Regions from separate parts of the Homo sapiens genome. Here region 1 is linked to region 2. The links come from fine-mapping of genetic effects on gene expression. A gene starts in region 2. The other region holds a variant in brackets. All regions are shown on one strand. Distances are from middle to middle. Region 1 overlaps USP10 (ubiquitin specific peptidase 10). Region 2 holds the start of USP10 (ubiquitin specific peptidase 10).

Region 1 (10,604 bases), 65 kb before region 2:
AGCTAAAAGAGGCCCTTGGGATCACGTTTCAACCATTTCATTGTAAAACCATAAAAACTTTCAGTACAAAATGGTTAAGCAACTGATTTAAGAGGCATAACTCAAACCCATTTCCCCTCATTCCTAATTTTGTGTTCTTTCCACCAAACCAGAGCACCTTAGTAGAAAGGTTCAAAATCAAGTGTGAACATACCTCTTGTTTGGTTTTTGTGGTATAACCTTGGACAGATTCTCTTGCCACCAAGCTCTCCAGTGCATCCTGGACTGTGCGTATCTTGTCTGACTGGATATCCAACTGCAACGTGAAAAATGGCTGCAAAGTGGCAGATTCTTTTGAACTCTGCTGGTAAACCACAGACCTAAGAATTGAAAGCAAAAACAAAAAAATTAAGAGACCACTCCTTGCCACTTTCCCTTAAGATTAACCAAGGGAATAAACACTGAAAATAAGATTATTCAATATCACTTTCAAAAGACCACAGAGAAAAGCCAAAAATATACTGAATTTAAAAATAATTCTGCTGAAGATGTGCTTTGTTAAACAGATGCTTGAAGGCAGCATGCTCGTTAAGAGTCATCACCAATCCCTGATCTCAAGTAATCAGGGACACAAACACTGCGGAAGGCCGCAGGGTCCTCTGCCTAGGAAAACCAGAGACCTTTGTTCACTTGTTTGTCTGCTGACCTTCCCTCCACTATTGTCCCATGACCCTGCCAAATCCCCCTCTGTGAGAAACACCCAAGAATTATCAATAAAAAAATAAATTAAAAAAAATAATAATAATTCTGCTGAATAGCACCTCCTTAGTATTTCTAACAACTAAATCTACCAGTTGATAAATGTTCCCAACGCCAGTGCTCTGGAAGAAAACATATTTCATTTTCCAAATTCTTTCACTTCCTCTCCACACTGTTATTTACTGCACCGGTTCATAAAGGCAGCCACCCTGCCATGGCCTCAAAACGCTGCTGCTTTCCATTTTCTCCAAGTATCATAGCCTGTTCTAATAAAATAGAGGAAATCCCAAGGTAAATAGAGGATTTTTAATGGCATTTTCCTCCTATAAAGATGTCTTACAAAAAGAAGAAGGGGAGTAGGGTGTGTAGAATAAAAAACAAGTTAACATTCCAGGAAAAAAGGCTGCCACCCTTCCAAGAAGGGCGCCAATTTGACCTTGTTTTCTTAGCTGGTTTTTCATTTCATTTTTTTTTTCCTTTTTCTAAGTTTTTCTGAGTAAAAATTGTGTGTTCGGCCCATCTCTCATTTAGCCTCAGCAAGGAAACATTCCAGGGGTTCAACAAGGGCTTCTATTTCTGCAGTCTCGGTGACCTAGTTTCTCAACGGAATAAAATGGGTGTGGACAGGTACTCAGGCTTTCCAGAACAGATGCGGTGAAGAGCTCGCTAAAAGCTTTTCTGTCCAGGGTTTAATTACGCATCTCCATGCTCCTTTACAGTTTGAAGACTTCAGTGACAACAGTTCCCCTGGTTCTGGAGAGGGATACAGTAGTGGGGAAACCGCTCATGAGAGCTGGTGGAGAATCAAGAAGCCCTCTTGATTCAGTGGTCCTGTGTTTTAGCAAAGGTGGCACCGGGGAAGAAAGGCGGGGAAGTCTTCCTGGGGAAACTGAAAAACATCTGAAGAGGCTGAGTTTTAGAAGTAAATCTTTCAATTGGTGTGAATAAAGAATCATGCTTAACAATGGCTGAAAAGAAGTTCCTACGTTGTAAGAATTCCCTATCTTTGCTTTACCGTTTTTCAAAAAGAAACATCAACAACCAATTTCAACACAGAGACCCCTCAGAGGATGTGGCTAGCAGCTGTGACAGAGCTGTTCAATCTGAGCCAGCAAGTCCTCCAAATGGACGCTGGTATTTTCCACTGGTTACTCTTAGACAAATTTGGGATCTTTGAGTATGCTGACCCTCTGTGGCCTTGAAATTCTGATACCCGGCCTCTGCACAAAAACCATGTTCCCGATGCCTCCATTTGAGCTGTCCATTCATCTTTCTCTCCCATCCCGAGGGGGTGTCCTCACAATCCTAAACCAGGCTGCTGGGCTGAAGGAGCAAAGGGCACAGCCTTCCCTCGCTGCTGCGCGCCAACCTGGACCTCAGCGTCTCCCTCCCAACACGACGTGTCCCAAGGAACCACAGACAGTGGTCAGGGCTGGGTGTTTCCCAGGTGACAACTGACCACCCAGCTGCCGTGGACACTCCACAGAGCACCAGAATAGAAAGGGGCCAGTGGAATAGAGCTCACAGTGCAGAACACAGAAGTGACTTGTTCAAGGTCACATGGCTGCTCAACTGGCTTCTAAATCCACTTCCACAGAGGACGGGAAACCAGCTTCTGAGGGCGTCAGCGCAGGTTTCTGAGGTTCTTATTATTCACCTGTTGAAAGTTGTTGATTCAGTCTCAGAACTGAGACTGAATCAAGTCTTGATGCCTCAAAAGGGGTGCTCTTTCTTTCAGGTACGCAGCATTTGGGACAACAACAGACTAAGAGTGTCACTGAAATACCAGCCTGGGGGTTATGCCGCAAGGCCTCAGAAAGGAAATTAGGCTCCAATGAGGCCTCTTCAGTACTTTCGATGGGTAAACCTTCTTGGAGATGGTACAAGTTTTGCTGAATTCCACATCACAGTGGTACTGAAAAGCTCTCAGGTAAATAAAGAAAAACCTTTCCGAAGGACTTTGTGAATGAGCAAAAAGCTGCTTAAGGGAACTGGCACACAGCCAGGTGCCCAGGGACTCCAGCCCAGTCACGGGTCTGTCTGTGTAAAAAAGACCTCCCTTCACACTCTCTTCACTTTCTACCTCACCTGCTTCCAATCAGTTCACAACAGCCAAGACAGGGAAACAACTGTCTGTGGATGGGCCAATGGATAAAGAAACTGTGGTGTGTATATATAGACAAGGGAACACTATTCAGCTGTAATAAAGACCCTGCCATTTGCCACAACAGGAATGAACCTGGGGAACATTATACTAAGTTAAAGAAGTCAGACACAGAAAGAAAAATATTGCATGGTCTCACTTATACATGGAATCTTTATTAAAAAAAAAAAAAAGACGAAACTACAGAGATAGGGAAAAGAGTGGTTCCTAGGGGTGGCGAGTGGGAATGGAAGATGTCGGTCGAAGGACACCAAGGGCAGCCACACAGGCGAACAGGTCTAGAGATCTGATGTGGAACATCGGACAAGAGCTACTCATAGTGCACTGTATTTGGGACTTTTGTGAAATGAGTAAAACTGCAGCTGCTCTTGCCATGTGCACACACACACACACAAGGGTAACTGTGATGGGGAATATGTTTATCTGCTTCACTGTAGCAACTATTTTACTATCTCTATTTCATAACATCTGTGTATACTTTAAATATACACAATTTATTAACATAAATAAAATTCCTCCAGATACACTGTCTTCTCTTACCAAAACACATGGTTTGGTTAGCTGGTTTTTTTTTTTGAAGACAGTCTTGCTCTGTCACCCAGGCTGGAGTGCAGTGGTGTAATCTTGGCTCACTGCAACCTCTGCCTCCCGGAGGTGGTTTTATGTTGCAAGTTTTAAATGCAGATGAAGTCTAATATATATATATATATTTTTTTTTCTCTCTCTCTCGTGGTTATTGTTTATGACCTATCTTATGAAACCTTTGCCTACCCCTAAGTCATGATGACATTCTCCTGTATCTTTTTCTTTTTTTTTTCTTGAGACAGAGTCTCACTCTGTCACCCATGCTGGAGTGCAATGGCGCTATCTGGGCCACTGCAACCTCTGCCTCCTGGGTTCAAGCGATTCTCCTGCCTCAGCCTCCCTAATAGCTGGGATTACAGGTGCCTGTCACCACACCTGGTTGATTTTTGTATTTTTAGTAGAGACGGGGTTTCACCATGTTGATCAGGTTGATCTCGAACTTCTAACCTCAGGTGATCCACCCGCCTTGGCCTCCCAAAGTCCTGGGATTACAGGCATGAACCACCGCGTATGGCCAATTAGCTGGCTTTTCTCTTACTCCCTAGCAGTGAGCAGCTGAACTTGACAGAGTAGAAGGGAGGAGCTCCCTGTCCCCTGCAGACATGCGCCAGCAGGGAGAGAATAAGCCACGGGGGCTGACAAGGGAAGCATCAGGAAGTGCAAGAGAAGAGCAGGCAGGGGAGCAAGATGCAAACCATTACGTCCAAGAAGTCTCAAAACAAGCCTCACACCTTCCCCCTTCACCAACATGGCAAAACCCTAGAAAAGGCAAATATTAAGTTATTCCAGAAAAGCACAAACCTGATGTGTCCACCAAAAATGCCGGTGATTGGAGTCTGAACAAAATCCGCCTGGCGGGTGACGGAAGTCTTGTTCCGGGGGCCCACTTGTTCCCATTCATCCTCGCTTCCTTCACCTTGTTCTTCCTGCTCTTCTTCATTGACCGAGTGGTTTTTGGGGCCGTTGGAAATCGTAAGTTCTGAAAAGGAGAGCATCTGCTTACACTACTATTTACGACAAGAACAGCAAAAAAAAAAAAGGCACAGATCTGTCGATTGCAGTTTTAAAAATGAAATCAGGGTGTGGTCTACATTAGGAGCCACGGCAACCAATCGCAACAGGAGCAACGTCACTGGATCCACGGCCAATCGCAACAGGCACAATGTCACTGGATCCACGGCAACCAATCGCAACAGGTGCAACGTCACTGGATCCATGGCAACCAATCCCAACAGGCACAACGTCACTGGATCCACGGCAACCAATCGCAACAGGTGCAACGTCACTGGATCCACGGCAACCAATCACAACAGGCGCAATGCCACTGGATCCACTGCAACCCATTGCAATGCCACTTGATCCACGGCAACCAATCGCAACAGGTGCACCACCACTGGATCCTTGTTTACATAAACTCCTAGAAATGACATCCCTGGGACAACTGGCGAAATTTGAAGATGCTCTGCAAAGTCGGTATTACCGTGTCATTACAGTTGTTTTTCTCAGTTAGATAAGGGACTGTGGTTACGCAGGAGATGCTTTAGCACCTGAGATGAACTAAACTGTTAGCTGCAACTTAACTTTGAATCATTCAGGGAAAATGTATGCGTATGTATGTATATATGGATGGACAGATAAGACATATATATATATACACAGTGTGTGTATAGCATCAGAAAATATGTTTAAAACTGTACACTCGGCAATTATAAAGGTATTCATCAAACGATTCTTTCAGCTTTTTTATAGGCTTGATCATTTTCCTAATTAAAAGTTAAAGGAAAATGGCAGAGGTTCGGGATAAACTGTAATTTACCTAAATATAACCTTCTCGATGGTGTAAGTTATCGTAGGGAATAAATGCTATTTGAAAGGAAAACGACTGAGGGGCAGGGAAGCAACATAACATATGAGTA[T/C]GCAACACCTGTTTACAGCGAACTCTTGCACAACTCTGCGGCAAGTGGACCATAACCTACTTTCATTACTTGGTGAGAGAAGCTTCTTTAGGTTCAACATTTCCTCATGAAGTCCATTTAGAATGAAGCCTAAGTATTCCTCAGCATCTTCTTGTCGACCCTGAAAAGGTCAAATATAATCACGTTACTGTGAACTGATCACTGTCAAAGGCCTGCAGGACATGCAGTACTTGCAAAGTCCAACCATGCCTCCTCTGAAATGGAAGATGTAAAGTATTTCCAAACAATGACATGATGACATGGGTTTCCCTTGCATAGCTGAAATCCCAAGAGTAGGAGGAAAAGGAGAAACTGACTAAACACATATCTCTAAATGGGTGGACTAATGGGGATTTTTATTATTTATACTTTCTGTATTTTTGAAATTTTCTTCAATAAATATACTTTTTTTTTTTTTTGAGACAAAGTCTCATTCCGTCACCCAGGCTGGAGTGCAGTGGTGCAATCTCAGCTCAGTGCAACCTCCAGCTCCCGGGTTCAAGCGATTCTCCTGCCTCAGCCTCCCGAGTAGCTGGGACTCCAGGTGTGTGCCACCATGCCTGGCTAATCTTTGTATTTTTAGTAGAGACGGGGTTTCACCATGTCGGCCAGGCTGGTCTCAAACTCCTGACCTCAGGTGACCTGCCTGCCTTGGCTTCCCAAAGTGCTGGGATTACAGGCATGAGCCACCACACCTGGCCACATTACCTTTATCACAAAAAAGTTATTTAAAAAAAAGTTTCTGTCTTGGGTAAACAAAATAGAAGACGAAGAACTAGATGTCTAGGGCCAGTTCACTGTTCAACTGCAAGGGTCACCACTCGAGCAATGAGCTAAGCAGCCCTATGTCTGCTTCTGTCTGTCTTTGATGATGGACAACTACATGGGAAAGAACTCAAACTACATGTGGAAAAACTCCACTGATTTAGAGCGTTAGCTGTGTTACACATACATCAGCAAAATCATTCACAGACGAGTCACCCAAGAGTTTAATAATCCCACATCACGAGTGTTTGATTCTGTTACTTATCATCAGTTCATATTTCATTCTTCACAGCACAACTGCCTATTCCAAGGCCCTGCAAATTGTTCTGTTTGAAGCATCTAGGTAAACTGCAAAGTTTACTTGCCCTCTCCAGATAGTAGACGTGGACAGCAGCTGTTCACGTGAGTGCATGCTCTGCACGTGTGCAGAAAAGGGCAAAAACTGGCACAGCCAAAGTGTGCTGAAGACTTTTCATAGCAGGCCTGGGTGGCTCTCCTTGGAAAGGCCTGCTTGCAAGGTTGCCCCTTGGCTGGTGTCTGGGAATTTGGATTTCAGAAAGGTTCCCATCGGTCCAATAACTGATACGGGATTCTGCCTAAACCGTTTGCGCAAGCAATGTGCTTTCTGCTGAACACTTTGCTTTTGTTTTGGGAGTTTGGACTTTTGGTTCAAGCCAGGCAGATGGTACCTATGGGACCAGCCCTCAGTAAAAACTCTGGACACGGAGTCTGTAATGACCTTCCCTGGTTGGCAGCATTTCACGTGTGGTCACAGTCTGGTGCTGGAGTAGTTACGCGTAGCCTTGTGGCCCCACTGGGAGAGGAGTCTGGAAGTTTCCTTTAGGCCCTGCCTCACCTGTCCTTTCCCTTCCTGACTCTGCTCCGCATGCTTTTGCTGTCAGCAACCATAGCCACGGGTATACCAGCTTCTGCATTTTCTGAGTTCTTCCAGTGAATCACCCAACCTCAGGGTGGTCTTGGGGAGCCCAACACATCCCCTATTAATGTAACCTTTAGAAGATGCTTTTGTTCATAGCATTATCTCTGTGCACGATCCAAGAGGGGTTCCTGAGCACCCACTTTATTTTGCCTCCACCTGTGCTAGGTGGGCCCCTCTGGGTTCTAAGGCATCTCTGTATCTTTGTGCTTCTCTTGTTGACTATTCATTAACTCATTCCCTCACTGAGGGCAGAGGGCGCACTTCATTCCATTTCTGCATCCCTAACACCATGTTCCCATTACTTGGGAAGTGCAAATTCCAAGCCAATACCAAAAGCTGCATTATAAGCATTTAAAAAGCTTAAGACCCTATGCTACCCCTGGTGGTATCCTGCAACGATGCCCTCGACATTCACTCTTCTTCAAAGCAATGAAGCTTCAAGTAAACTTGACTTAAATGGCATTTTCTCAACTATTTTTCTCTCTGAATACATTTCCCTAAGCATCATTTCAACTGCTTGTACTGATTCATCACAAACTCAATCTGGGAGGAAAGAAATGCTCCAGTTAACGGTGCTAAGGGCGGCCCAAGTCACTCTCAACAGCCCCAGGGCCTTTTATAAGGGCTCCCTGGCCCCTTGGTCTCATGCCTTTAGTAACAAAGTATGTGATTAAAAAAAAATTAGGTAAAGGAATCAAGTACATCAAATAGCTACTAAAGCCTGTAAGTATGATGAAGACATAAGCTCTTCTGAATACTGCCATCATTCCAGGCCCAGTGCACTCCATTCTACCCCAGTGGCATATAGTGCAGTGGTTAAGAGAACTGACTTGAAAGCTGGGTTCTGCCATGTACATTAGCTACCTGACCTCAGACAGTGGCTTCACTTCTCTTAACCGTAACAAGGAGACCATAATCATACTTTATTCAGAGTCAACTAAGTTAATATATGTAAAGTACTGAGAGCAGTGCTTGGTGCACCATATCATCCAAGCAATGGACTCTTATAAACCTACATCTACTTATAGCGCTGGAGACAGAGGGCAAATATCAATAAGCAACAGTTACCACACAAACACTGGAACAAAAGGCAACACTTGATACTAGTGACAACAGAGAAGTCTCAAACCTTTTCAGACAGGCTTGACTTGTTAACTGTCAGGAGTCTGTAAATATATGTGGGCTCAAAGGCAGCTCCAGGGCGAATATCCCTCACGATTTTATCTCCAAGAGCTGCAATGGAAAGAGGACACAGGTTTTCCTAACTACAATGAACTCATAAATGATGAAAAAAGCAACATCATCAAAACTCCCCCACCTCCCACCTGGCTGAATGTTGAGAATGGCATAGGTGTAAAGACACTATCTTCCCAACAAGACTGAATTTACCAAATTTAAGTCATCTGTCTCCATAACTCCCAATATGTAATAGCATCAACAAAACTCATTTTTACTAACCTTGTCGGGGTTTTGGAGGTACTGGCATATTAGTGAACTCATTCATTAGCCGAACACTAAACATGGGGAAAAAATGTTAAATAGTGCAGTTTTAAACAATATATACTTTTACTAAAGAGCTTTGATGGCTAAGTAGAATATCAGCTATACGAGTATAGTAGATTTTAGGTAACCAATGCTGTAACAGCTAGTGAACTCAAGTCTCTTCTATATGCATTTTTGGTCTATTTCAAGTGATATATGCTGGTAAACGCTAAAATATTTTCTACTGAATCTAAAGAACACAGATCATCAATGCTCCAATTCCATTTCTGGTTAACTTCCATATAAAATCGCCAACAGTCTATTTTTAAAAAAAGACAGAATTATAGGACTCATTTGCAGGAAATCAAGAGCTTTACTAAACTATTTCAATTCTAATTATCAGACGGGAAAAACCCCACCACTTAACACATCTTTCACCACCTTACTTACAAGCTGTCTATCATGGGTGTTGACGTACAAGGCCTTTGCACTTTGGAATACAGAGGAATGAACTTCATCAGGTGGTACATCGGCGGGCAAGCAACCAATGCCTGCAGTGTCTATGTAGTGGCAGTAAGGAAGCGTAAAGGAAATGAACAGACACACCACATTTCCTGAAGGCACATGAAGCACAAGAATGTTTATAAAAACACAAGGAAGCTAAGGACGTTGAACTACTTAGATATGTCACCACGAAAAGGAATAAACCAAATAGTTACTAGGGTAAGTGTCCTGTGATGTCCATATAAGGATCTACGAAGCAGTCAGTCGTTTGTATTCAAGAACTTGACCTAACCAAGACAGTTCAATCAGTTAAAACCAAATTTCCAGTTGTAAGTGGTTGCTCTGCCCTATTATTTGTGACTATTCTAATGAGAGCCAGCTTGTCTGCAGCCCTCATTCACGTGCCAACATATCCTCTCTTTTAGAGGGAGATGGACTGGGGTCAGGAATAATCCTGTTTATAAGCAAGGTAGGCAGACCAAGTAATAAACCAGACTTAGGGATTCAAATGGAGAGCTAGATGGCCCACGGAAGCTGAGCTAAGTCACATGCACCCAAAGGAGGGACAGCTGCAACAAGCTGGCCTTGCGGACGGCGTCCAGGAAGGATACAGCATTAATGTAGCACCAGTTCCCTTTATTGATCAGCCCACGGGGTTGCAACGACACTGGTTTATGGATTAGGGTTACATTCTCCAGCAACTCTGAAAGAGTGAAGAAGCATATTTCAGAAATTGATGACATCTAGTGAAGAACATTCAAATCATTTCACATGCTCTACTCTGGGACAGCATTTAAAATCCCTTCAGTAAAACACACAGCCAAAGAAAATGCATACTGTTAAGGCTTCATTCAGTTCAACATCAAGTACATTATTCAATTAGAACATTTTTGAAACTAATCTTTTCCCTCAAATAGCAACATTTAATCTTCCTGGGGGGAACAGAATTAGGGAACACAAGAACTACCTATTTTAATGAGAAACAAAAAAATGTTAACACAGTATCATTATTAGAGAATAGATTTGAGAGATACAGCCTTTCTTCCTTAAACACCATTAGCCAGGTGTGTCTCATCAGCAGCAAGGCGCCTCAGACACTAGATAGAAAGATATCTTGCAGAACCCACGTCTCATTCCTCTCTGCATCCCCAGCATCTAATGCTGACCCTACACATCACTGTGTGTGTTCAATGGCTGTTCAGTGAGTAAAAATACTCCTTTCAGAGACAGCGGTCTCCTACAAATTAAACCGTCCACTAGAAATCCAATTTAGCAACTGTTTTATAAACTGTAATTCCCTTATTCCATTTACAAACACGCTGCTCAGCCTCAGGTTCACCCTGAGTGGACATCACTCTTTCTGTGTATTAAAACAGCTGTGAATGCCATCTTTATAGAATTAACCATCAGAAATGCTTGAAAACAAGACAAGGTCTCCCCCTGTCCCACTATGAATCTTCTAATGGTGATG
Region 2 (10,264 bases):
AACCACTAAGGTGACCACTGGCTCACAAACTTAAAACATCTACTCTTAGGACATGTTTAAATAGCTTGCTGTCACTATGCAAAGGAAAACTGTTATCTCCAAATGCCCTGTCAACATTTCAAACAATTGTATTTACTTCAGCTGCTCATTACTTGAGATTCTAATAAAAATGTATCTCTTTTAAGAATTAACACTAATCCAGCTGTTGGCTAGAAACAGATATTCAGCAATACAGTAACATTCAGCCATATGCTAGAGGGGGAATCCAAGACTTTCCATCATGTAAAATGTGGAGGATCTGCTATTACAAGCTAAAAAAGAGACTGGGGTGAGTCTATGCAGAGACAAGGACAGAAGCCAACTGCATGACATTCAAATTGGGTGTAGGAAGCATTATTGTGGAGATTTCACTATAAATGACATCAATAATCACAAATATTTTTTCGGTGTAAGGCAAAACTAATAGCTTCAAATTAATTACCCCAAATAATTTAACCGGTCCCCTCAGTGACAAGGATATTCACTTGGACCTACACTTCAACTGTTAAAGTTCATTTATTTGTCTTTGCTAAAATGCTGAGTTACCGGTCTCAAAATGTTTCCAAATTCTTCACTATTACACTTCAATACAGGTAACAGGGATCAACCAACACTTTCTAATATTTGGAAATAAGGTTATTAACCTATAAACTTTTTTATTTATTTTGAGATGGAGTTTCGCTCTTTTTTTTTTTTTTTTTTTTGAGACGGGAGTCTTGCTCTGTCGCCCAGGCTGGAGTGCAGTGGCATGATCTCGGCTCACTGCAACCTCCGCCTCCCGGGTTCAAGCGATTCTCCTGCCTCAGCCTCCCAAGTACCTGGGACTACAGGCGAGCTTCACCACACTCGGCTAATTTTTGTATTTTTAGTAGAGACAGGGTCTCACTATATTGGTCAGGCTGATCTCGAACCCCTGACCTCAAGTGATCCACCCACCTGCGCCTCCCAAAGTGCTGGGATTACAGGCACGAGCCACCGCGCTGGCCTGTAAACATTTTTAAACTGTAACTTTTTCCACCTCCCATTATTCTCAGTGACAAATTTAACTTTAACAAGTCAATTTTAAAATAAGACCTTCAATTTGCAGTTGTTATTCCCAACATAAACAAGTAATATACATACCATGACGCTTAATATCTGATAAACAATCAGTATTTGCTGAATGAATGAATGGCCATTAAGGCTGCAAGACTCTTAGGACAGTAGGCAACCAAGTAAAACAAATTTATTAAAACGCTCAGAATGACTGGAGCAGGAACCAGTAACTAAATCCTGTCATACATGATTCCATTACTTGTTTGCATTACTATTCTTTTAAAATGAAAATTATGAGAAATCGGCCAGGCGCAGTAGTGGCTCACGCCTATAATCCCAGCACTTTGAGAGGCCGAGGCGGGTGGATCACCTGAGCTCAGGAGTTTGAGACCAGCCTGATCAACATGGTGAAACCCGTCTTTAATAAAAATACAAAAAATTAGCCAGGCATGGTGGTGGGCGCCTGTAATCCCAGCTACTTGGGAGGCTGAGGCAGGAGAATCGCTTGAACCCGGGAGGCAGAGGTTGCAGTGGGCCGAGATCATGCCACTGCACTCCAGCCTGGGCGACAGAGCAAGACTCCCGTCTCAAAAAAAAAAAAAAAAAAAAAAAAAAAAGAGCGAAACTCCATCTCAAAATAAATAAAAAAGTTTATAGGTTAATAACCACAGCACTCCAGCCTGGGCAACAAGAGCCAAATTCCAACTCAAAAAAAAAAAAAAAAAGAAGAAGAAAATTATGAGAAATCAAACTATTTCCTTTGCTACTTTCTCCATGCTAAAACTTAAAAGCATTTAAATCATACTTTAAAAGAATAAACCCAAAGTGTTGCTAACATTTACGTTCCGCCAACTTTTGCTACTCCAATTTTCTAAAGATGTGTATAACGCTTTAGACTGTTGTATAAAACGTAAATACTGGGACAATGAATGCAAACGAAATTACAATTAAGTTTACATATTATCCATCCCCATTAATTAACATTTCAATCAACCTTGAATTGTGATTGATGCTTATTAAATAAAGGAAGTGAGCTATGCCTAAAGATGCTTTCTTCATGTCAAAATCACAAGGAATATTACACATTAATTCATAATGAGCCTTTTACTTGTTCATACCAATTCTAATAAGCTAGTTAATTAGGATTTAAGTTGAGAAAAAAGCAAATATCAAATCTTTTTTTTTAACAGAAAGGTCTAAACAAAGCTAAATACACCAAATCTCTTAAAATCTTTGGGCTATACATTTGTAAAAATTATTCAACTACTGATCCCTTTTTTGGCGCAAAGACCTACACTACTTACAAAAGTAAATGAATAAGGGAACAAAACGTTAAAGGGGGAAATTCTGATGCAAACTAAACTACAGCTAATTTAACAAAATTGAAGCTTGTCGTAAGATCTAATTTTTTAAAAAGTTTTCGCATTTTAGATTCCACAACACGCATTCATTACAATAGTTCCGAAAATCATGTTTCAAAAGAGGTGTAGTCAGATTGACTTCATCTGCAGAAGGGCAACAAAACCCAATTGCTCATGAAGGGTTATGATTTTACTCGCAATCAGTTTCCCGAATGGCTACTTTGTTTCATTTCCCCATATTTAATACAAATACACAATGAGATGGTTTAAAAGTGTGCAACAATTTATAGGGACCAGATGTCAACAAATTAGCAGTCTAAAGCAAGGCTGACAAATAATACATCATGCCGATTTTTGTCCAGAATAATTATAATGGCGGAGGGGGGAGAAGATGTGAGAGAAGGGGTGGGAGAGGGGAATAAGAGCTTAACTCTACACGCACATCTCCCAAAAAGAGCTCTTTCTTTCCACCACGGGATTATTGTAAAGGGCCCCCAAGCTTTAGCTACTGTTCAGGCAGGGTGCGTTAGTTGTCAGCCTGGCTGGGATGGATTCGTGCAAGGGATGTCACTCAAACGCAAGTGAAAGTACGGTCCTTGCGACTTATTTCGAGTTTTCTTTGCAACAGCAGCCCAAGGCCGCTACTCTGCTACTTCTATCTAAAAAACAGAAAATCGGCAACCCCCGCATCATCAATCAAGCTGAGAAAGGAAGCTCTTGGGGCAAAGGGGCAACAGGGCACCCCCAAATCTCTGAGGCTCGCTCCAGGCAGAGGCAGCAACCTGAGCTGCTCTGGGGCCCCTGCGCTCCAGGGGACTCCCGGAGCCCCCGGGCCGCCTCCCCCGGCCGGCGCGGCGGGGAGGGCCCCACTCCACACCCCGGGCTCGCCCCGCGGTCCAGCCCCAGGGAGGTTAACCCCTTCGGCGCCCTCCACGCCCTCCCCAAGCGGGGCCCGGAGCCCCCGCCCTTCGACCTCCCCGGGACTAGGGGGTCCGGGTGGCTCAGGGGACGAAGGCGCGGCGGGCGCGGAGGCGGCGGGTGGCTCCGGCCTAGGCCCGGGCAGCGTGTCCCAGCGCCCTCCCCCACTCCCACACGCTCGCTCCGGGCAGGGCGCGGACGCCCGCCCGCCGCGGCGTCCGCCCGCCCGGGGCTCGGGCCCCTTCCGGCCGAAGGCGCAGACCGGCGGCTACCTGCGGGCTGTGGAGGGCCATGGCTGCCCGTTTCATTGGGACTCCGCGATCCTCCGGCTGCTCACGCTGCTTCCCCCGCCGCCGCCATCTTCTCGCCCGCACATACACACTCGCATCGGCCGCCGCGCCTGCGCACTGGCCGCGCGCCGCGGGGCGCGGGGAGGCCGGCCCGCTGCTGCGCCTGCGCGGCCGACAGGTGGGCGTGCGCCTGCCGGGCCGCGGACATCCCCTGCCCCGCCTGGAGCCTGCCGGACTCTGAGCCCCGCGACCCTCGGGCGGAAGCGGCCGGGCGGCTGCACACCAGGAGCCCGCCGAGGCCTGGCTGTGGATCCGGAAGGGGAGAGGGCAGGCAGGTAGAGGTGGCAACGCCAAGGCGCCGGCGGGCCCGGCTCCTCACCTACTGGGGGCCACCTGGGCCCCCGGAGCCCGGGAGTCGCGGGCTGAGGTCGGCCTGGGGCCCACGAGCCGCCCTCAGCGTACCTGGGCCCGGGCCTCGGGAGTGTTCGCATTAGATCCCCGAGGAGGGTCTGGTTTATGAAGATCCCGTTGCCGCGCATTCATTCATTTGTTCACTCTTCATTCACTCCCCAAGTCCTGCCTGGGCGCCTGGGCCACGCCTTTGGCTAGGCATTAGGGGAAAAAAGCAAAACAGACAAAAACAAAACGTAGGGCATAAAAGCACGCGTAAAGTGCTTGACATGAGGCCTGGCAAGTAGCAAACACTCAGCAAGTGCTACGTGTTGCACACGTGCGTGCGTGTGCACGGGCAAACCAGCCTTGGGGGTCGTTGGTTCATTCATTATTAAGAAACAGGGGCCCCTGCCTAACTGCACTGTTTTCCAGCCAGTGGGTCCACCCTTGGGTTTTGGCCCCTTTTCTAGCTGTGATTTCAGACAAGCGACTTTCCTTCCCTAAGCCTTGGTTTCCTCACCTGTGAATAAGACAAATATGTCATAACGCGTAAGATTTCTGTGAGGTTCAAATTAGATTAACGTGAGCACACTGGCCAAGAGAATAGTCAATAAAAATTGGCTACTGGGATTGTTATTAATAACCATTACTATTGGTTTCATTTATTCAACAAACACCTACAGAGAGTCTGCTCTTGCTAGACCGTACACTGAGCAGAGGAGATGAACAGGAAGATCCATTCCCACGTTACATAAAATAGGGAGCCTGGTCTCTTCATAAATGGGATGCCATGAAAAATATAAGTGGGCCAGGCGCAGCGGCTCACACCCGGAATCCCACACATTGGGAGGCCGAGGCGGGCGGATCACTTGAAGTCAGGAGTTGGAGACCAGCCTGGCTAATATGATGAAACCCCAACTCTACTAAAAATACAAAAATTGGTGGGATGTAGTGTGGCACACCAGGCGTCCCAGCTACTCAGGAGGCTGAGGTGGGAGGATCACTTGAACCCCGGAGACGGAGGTTGCGGTGAGCCGAGATCGTGCCACTGCACTCCAGCCTGGGTGACAGAGCGAGTCTCTGTCTCAAAAAAAAAAAAAGAAAGAAAGAAAGAAAGAAAAGAAAAGAAAAATATAAGTGGTAGGGAGGGGTTGTTCCAAAATAGAAGAGCTAGAAAACATAACCAAATACAATGTGTCATCTTGCTTGGATCCTGATATGTCTTTTAAGCTGGTTTTACTATTTGTTGACAATTGGAGACATTTGAATATGGATTGGATATGGGTGATCTTCGTGAATTATTGGTAATTTTATAGTGTAATAATTATACTGTGCTCACTGAGAGAATGTCCTTATTGTGAGGAGATGCATTCTGAAGAGTTGAGGAGTGAAGGCCATAATGCCTGTAAACTATTGTTTAATGGTTCAACAAAAGATAAAATCATGTACACACATAAACATTCAGGGAGAGACAGCAAATATGGCAAAATGTTTACTATTGTTGGCTCTAAGTAGTGCTATATATTTCAGCTTTTCTCTATGTTTGAAAATTTTTATAACAAAAAATTGGGGAAAACAATACAATATAGTGTCTGTGCTATAATTTTAACCATGGAAAAGCGATATCTGCACTTGGATAGAAACTGGGGGACGTGAAAACTCACTAGTGATTTATGGTTGTCTCTCTGGCTCGGTGCGGTGGCTCACACCTGTAATCTCAGCACTTTGGAAGGCTGAGGTGGGTGGATCACCTGAGGTCGGGAGTTCAAGACCAGCCTGATCAACATGGTGAAGCCCCGTCTCTACTAAAAATACAAAAATTAGTCGGGCGTGGTGGCAGGCGCCTGTAATCCCAGCTACTCAGGAGGCTGAGGCAGAAGAATCGCTTGAACCCGGGAGGCAGAGGTTGCAGTGAGCCGAGATGGCACCATTGCACTCCAGCCTGGACAACAAGAGTGAAACTCTGTCTCAAAAAAAAAAAAAAAAAAAAACATATATATATATATATATATATATATATATATATATATATATATATAGTTGTTTGTCTGATTTTTATCATACAGTTGCTTGAACAACAAATAAAAGTGATAATAAACAAAAGATCCCAGGCCAGGCACGGTGGCTCACGCCTGTAATCCCAGCACTTTGGGAGGCTGAGGCGGGTGGATCACCTGAGGTCAAAAGTTCGAGACTAGCCTGGCCAACATGGTGAAACCCCGTCTCTACTAAAAATACAAAAATTAGCTGGGCATGGTGGCGGGCACCTGTAATCCCAGCTACCTGGGGGGCCTAGGCAGGAAAATTGCTTGAACCCGGGAGGCGGAGGTTGCAGTGAGCTGAGATCACACCATCTCACTCCAGCCTGGGGGACAAAAGTGAGACTTTGTCTCACAAATAAATAAATATATAAATAAATAAATAAAAAAGATCCCAGTCTTCATTTTCAAATAATTCACATAGATATGAACACATACCTTCAGTACAAGGAAATAGATGTTAAAAGGAAGCTATGAACAAGCACTATGGCCTTCAGTGCTTAGCAGAGCCTGGTGATATACTTCGGCTGTGTCCCCACCCAAATCTCATCTTGGATTGTAATAATCCCCACGTGTCAAGAGTGGGGCCACGTGGTGATAATTGAATCATTGGCGTGGTTTTCCCCATACTGTTCTCATGGTAGTGAGTAAGTCTCACAAGATCTAATGTTTGTGTGTGTGTGTGTGTGTGTGTGTGTGTGTGTGGTTTTTTTGGTTTGTTTGGTTGTTTTTTTGTTTTTGTTTTTGTTTTTGTTTTTGAGACAGTCTTGCTCTGTCGCCCAGGCTGGAGTGCAGTGGCAGGATCTCAGCTCACCGTAACCTCCGCCTTCTGGGTTCAAGTGATTCTCCTGCCTCAGCTTCTGGAGTAGCTGGGACTACAGGCATGTGACACCACGCCCGGCTAATTTTCGTATTTTTAGTAGAGATGGGGTTTCACCATGATGGCCAGGCTGGTCTTGAACTCCTGACCTCAAGTGATCTGCCCACGTCAGCCTCCCAAAGTGCTGGGAATACAGGCGTGAGCCACCACGCCCAGCCTCTAATGGTTTTACAAATGAGAGTTCCCCTGCACAAGCTCTCTTGCCTGCCGCCATGTTAAGCGTGACTTTGCTCCTCATTTGCCTTCCGCCATGATTGTGAGGCCTCCCTTGCCATGTGGAACTGTGAGTCAATTAAACCTCTTTGCTTTATAAATTACCTAGCTTGGGTATGTATGTCTTTATTAGCAGCATGACAACCGACTAATACACCTGGTATCTCCCATGAGTCTGGGGACAGTGGCCTAGGCCTGGAGTCAAGACAGGCCCAAGTTCAAATCTGGAATCCCCCACTCACTAGCTGTGTGAACCTGGGCAAGTTACCTACATTTTCTGTGAATCTTTTGTAGAAGGTGGTGTGATGGGCAGAATAATGCCCCTCCCCTCAAAGATGTCCATGCCCCAACCTCAGAACCTGTGGATATATTACTTTACATGGTAAAAGGAACATTGCAAATGTGGTAATGTTAAAGGCTTTGAGATGGATTATCCTGGGAAATAACCTAATTATGACATGACTGGTGGGTCCCAAGTAATCACAAGGGTCCTTATGAGGGAAAGAAGGAGGGGCAAGAGAGTCAGGTCACAAGGAGATGTGAAAATAGAAGCAGAAAGAGAGAGGGAGAGATTTGAAGATGCTGCGCTGCTGGTGCCACGAGCCAAGGAATGTGGGTGGCCTCTAGGAGCTGGAAAAGGGCAAACATTTTCTGCTAGTGCTGCCAGAAGGAACATAGCCTTGCTTACAGCTTGATTTAGCCCCGTGAGTCTTCTGAGCTACAGAACTTTAAAACAAAAAACTTGTGTTGATTTAAGCCGGTAAATTTTGTTCCAGCAACAATAGGAAACTATGACAGGGGAAGCAACACTACCTGTTCTATAAGCCTGTTGCTAGGAGGAGATGAAGTAATGGAGCTAGCACATGGAGTGTGCTGCCTGGTGCTTTTATTTTTTTATTTTTTTGAGACGGAATTTCACTTTGTCGCCCAGGCTGGAGTACAGTGGCATGATCTCAGCTCGCTGCAACCTCCGCCTCCAGGGTTCAAACGATTCTTCTGCCTCAGCCTCCCAAGTAGCCGAGATTGCAGGCATGCACCACCATGCCCAGCTAATTTTTGTATTTTTAGTAGAGACAGCGTTTCACTCTGTTGGCCAGGCTGGTCTCAAACTCCTGACCTCAGGTGATCCACCCGCCTCGGCATCCCAAAATGCTGAGATTACAGGCATGAGCCACCATGCCCGGTGCCTGGTGCTTTTAAACTACCATTCAACAAATGGTAAGTGAGTTTTCTCATTGTCCAGTTTGGGCATAAGGCTTCCCCAAGGAGGTAACATTTGAGCTAGATCTTGATGAGTAGGTGTTTCCCAAGAGTTCTTTTCTGGAACTCTGAAAGTATATAGGAGTGCCACTAACTGTGTGGCCTTAAGCAAGTAACTAGTGTCTCTGGACCTCAGTTTCCTCATCTGCAAAATGGGAGAAATAATACCTCCCAGGGATATCGTGAAAAGGAGAATAAGATAACAGAGGCAAATTGCTTAGCAAAATGTCCGGCATACAGCAAGGGCTTAATAAATGGTGAAAATTGTCATTATTACTCCCAGAGTTCTTAGAAGGGAAAGTGAGGTTTGCACAGGAAGGGCTCAGTGCATTTGACAGCATTTATTGCCAATTATAAAATTCAAGCTTTCTTTCAAACAAAAATTAGAATTTGGAGACACTTGTATCCACCATTGTGAGATGGACAGCTACCCAATTCTTAAAGACTTTTCTGATAAGATTGGTGGTGATAGTAATAAATGTAACTTTTTTTCAACTTTTAGATTCAGGAGGTACATGTGCAGGTTTGTTACCTGGGTATACTGCATGATGCTGAGATTTGGGGTAGGAATGATCTCGCCCCCCAGGTACTGAGCATAGTACCCACTGTTAGTTGTTCAACGCTTGCCCCCCTCCCTCCCTTCCCCCTCTAGTAGTCGCTAGTGTCTATTGTTGCCATCTTTATGTCTGTAATTAAAAAAAAAAAATAGAATAGAATGCGTCAACATTTGGAAGATCTGCATAACTCAGCGAATCAATGTTTTCCAAATGACTGATGTTATAAAATTGCACATGAGTAAAAGATCCATTCAAAGTACAAGATAGGACAGTGGGGCCAGACACAATGGCTAATGCTTGTAATCCGAGGCTGGTCTCAAACTCCTGAGCTCAAGCAATCCTTTCTCCTCAGTCTCCCACAGTGCTGGGATTACAGGTGTGAGCCACTGCTCCTGGCCCAGACTTTTTAAAAATTTGTAAAAATACAAAATAATGCCACTCCTCTCACCAAAATGTTTTGTTTTGGAGTATAGTTGTTTTTCACTAAAATGATGTTATTTATGTTAACATTTAATGAAAGTATTATATTTTAAATAAATTGTTATTATTTTGTAATGTTTTAGTTTTTACTTCTAATATGGTAAACCACAACAGATACAACCTCTGTCTCCTGTGTTCAAGCGATTCTCCTGCCTCGGCCTCCTGAATAGCTGGGATTACAGGTGCGTGAGCCACCACGCCCGGCTAGTTTTTGTATTTTTAGTAGAGATAGGGTTTCACCATGTTGGTCAGGCTGGTCTCGAACTCCTGACCTCGTGATCCTCCCACCTCGGCCTCCCAAAGTGCTGGAATTACAGGCGTGAGCCACCGCACTGGCTCTTTTTTTTTTTTTTTTTTTCTCATTTAATTCTTTAGCTTTGCCAACAGGAGGTCAGCCAACAATAATTTTTAAGAATGTGAAGAGATCAGCGACCAAGAAGTTTGAGAACTCCAGCTCTCCCGTGCCAGCAAGTGCCCACTTTAAATGTGCCCTCTGTCTGCCTGGAACTTTCCCCAGGGAGGCTCAACCCTTCATTCACTCAGGTTTCTGTTAATGGTCGTCTCTTCCTAAAGGACCCTCCTCACTCCTTTGCCCATAATGGGTGCCCCACCCTGTGCCCTCCTGCTATCCAGGTTAATTTCCCACAGCACTCACAAACTTTCTTTCAAACAAAAATTAGAATTTGGGGAAACTTGTAGCTGACATTTGGGGAAACTAGCTGACATTCTATGGCATATTAATTTTGTGTGTTTATTGTCTTTTTCTTCCACTAGAATCAGGCCTGGCGCAGTGGCTCAT

The links.
Region 1: its variant is fine-mapped to the expression of USP10 in whole blood (TOPMed, PIP above 0.99).

What each region holds. Positions count from the first base shown.
Region 1 is chr16:84,757,948-84,768,551 of GRCh38, reverse strand. It overlaps USP10 (ubiquitin specific peptidase 10), which reads right to left. Exons shown (of 14, transcript NM_005153.3): 5 at 9,745-9,836; 6 at 9,080-9,189; 7 at 8,606-8,661; 8 at 8,277-8,380; 9 at 5,464-5,563; 10 at 4,289-4,466; 11 at 194-359. Among named protein-coding and RNA genes, the nearest start is that of CRISPLD2, 57 kb to the left of the region's middle. RefSeq lists a silencer at 7,335-7,629. The variant T/C (reference allele first, on the strand shown) is at 5,404.
Region 2 is chr16:84,693,473-84,703,736 of GRCh38, reverse strand. USP10 (ubiquitin specific peptidase 10) reads right to left here and starts at 3,737. Exons shown (of 14, transcript NM_005153.3): 1 at 3,626-3,737. The coding sequence starts at 3,646. RefSeq lists silencers at 3,166-3,275, 3,316-3,425, 3,436-3,655, 3,746-4,265.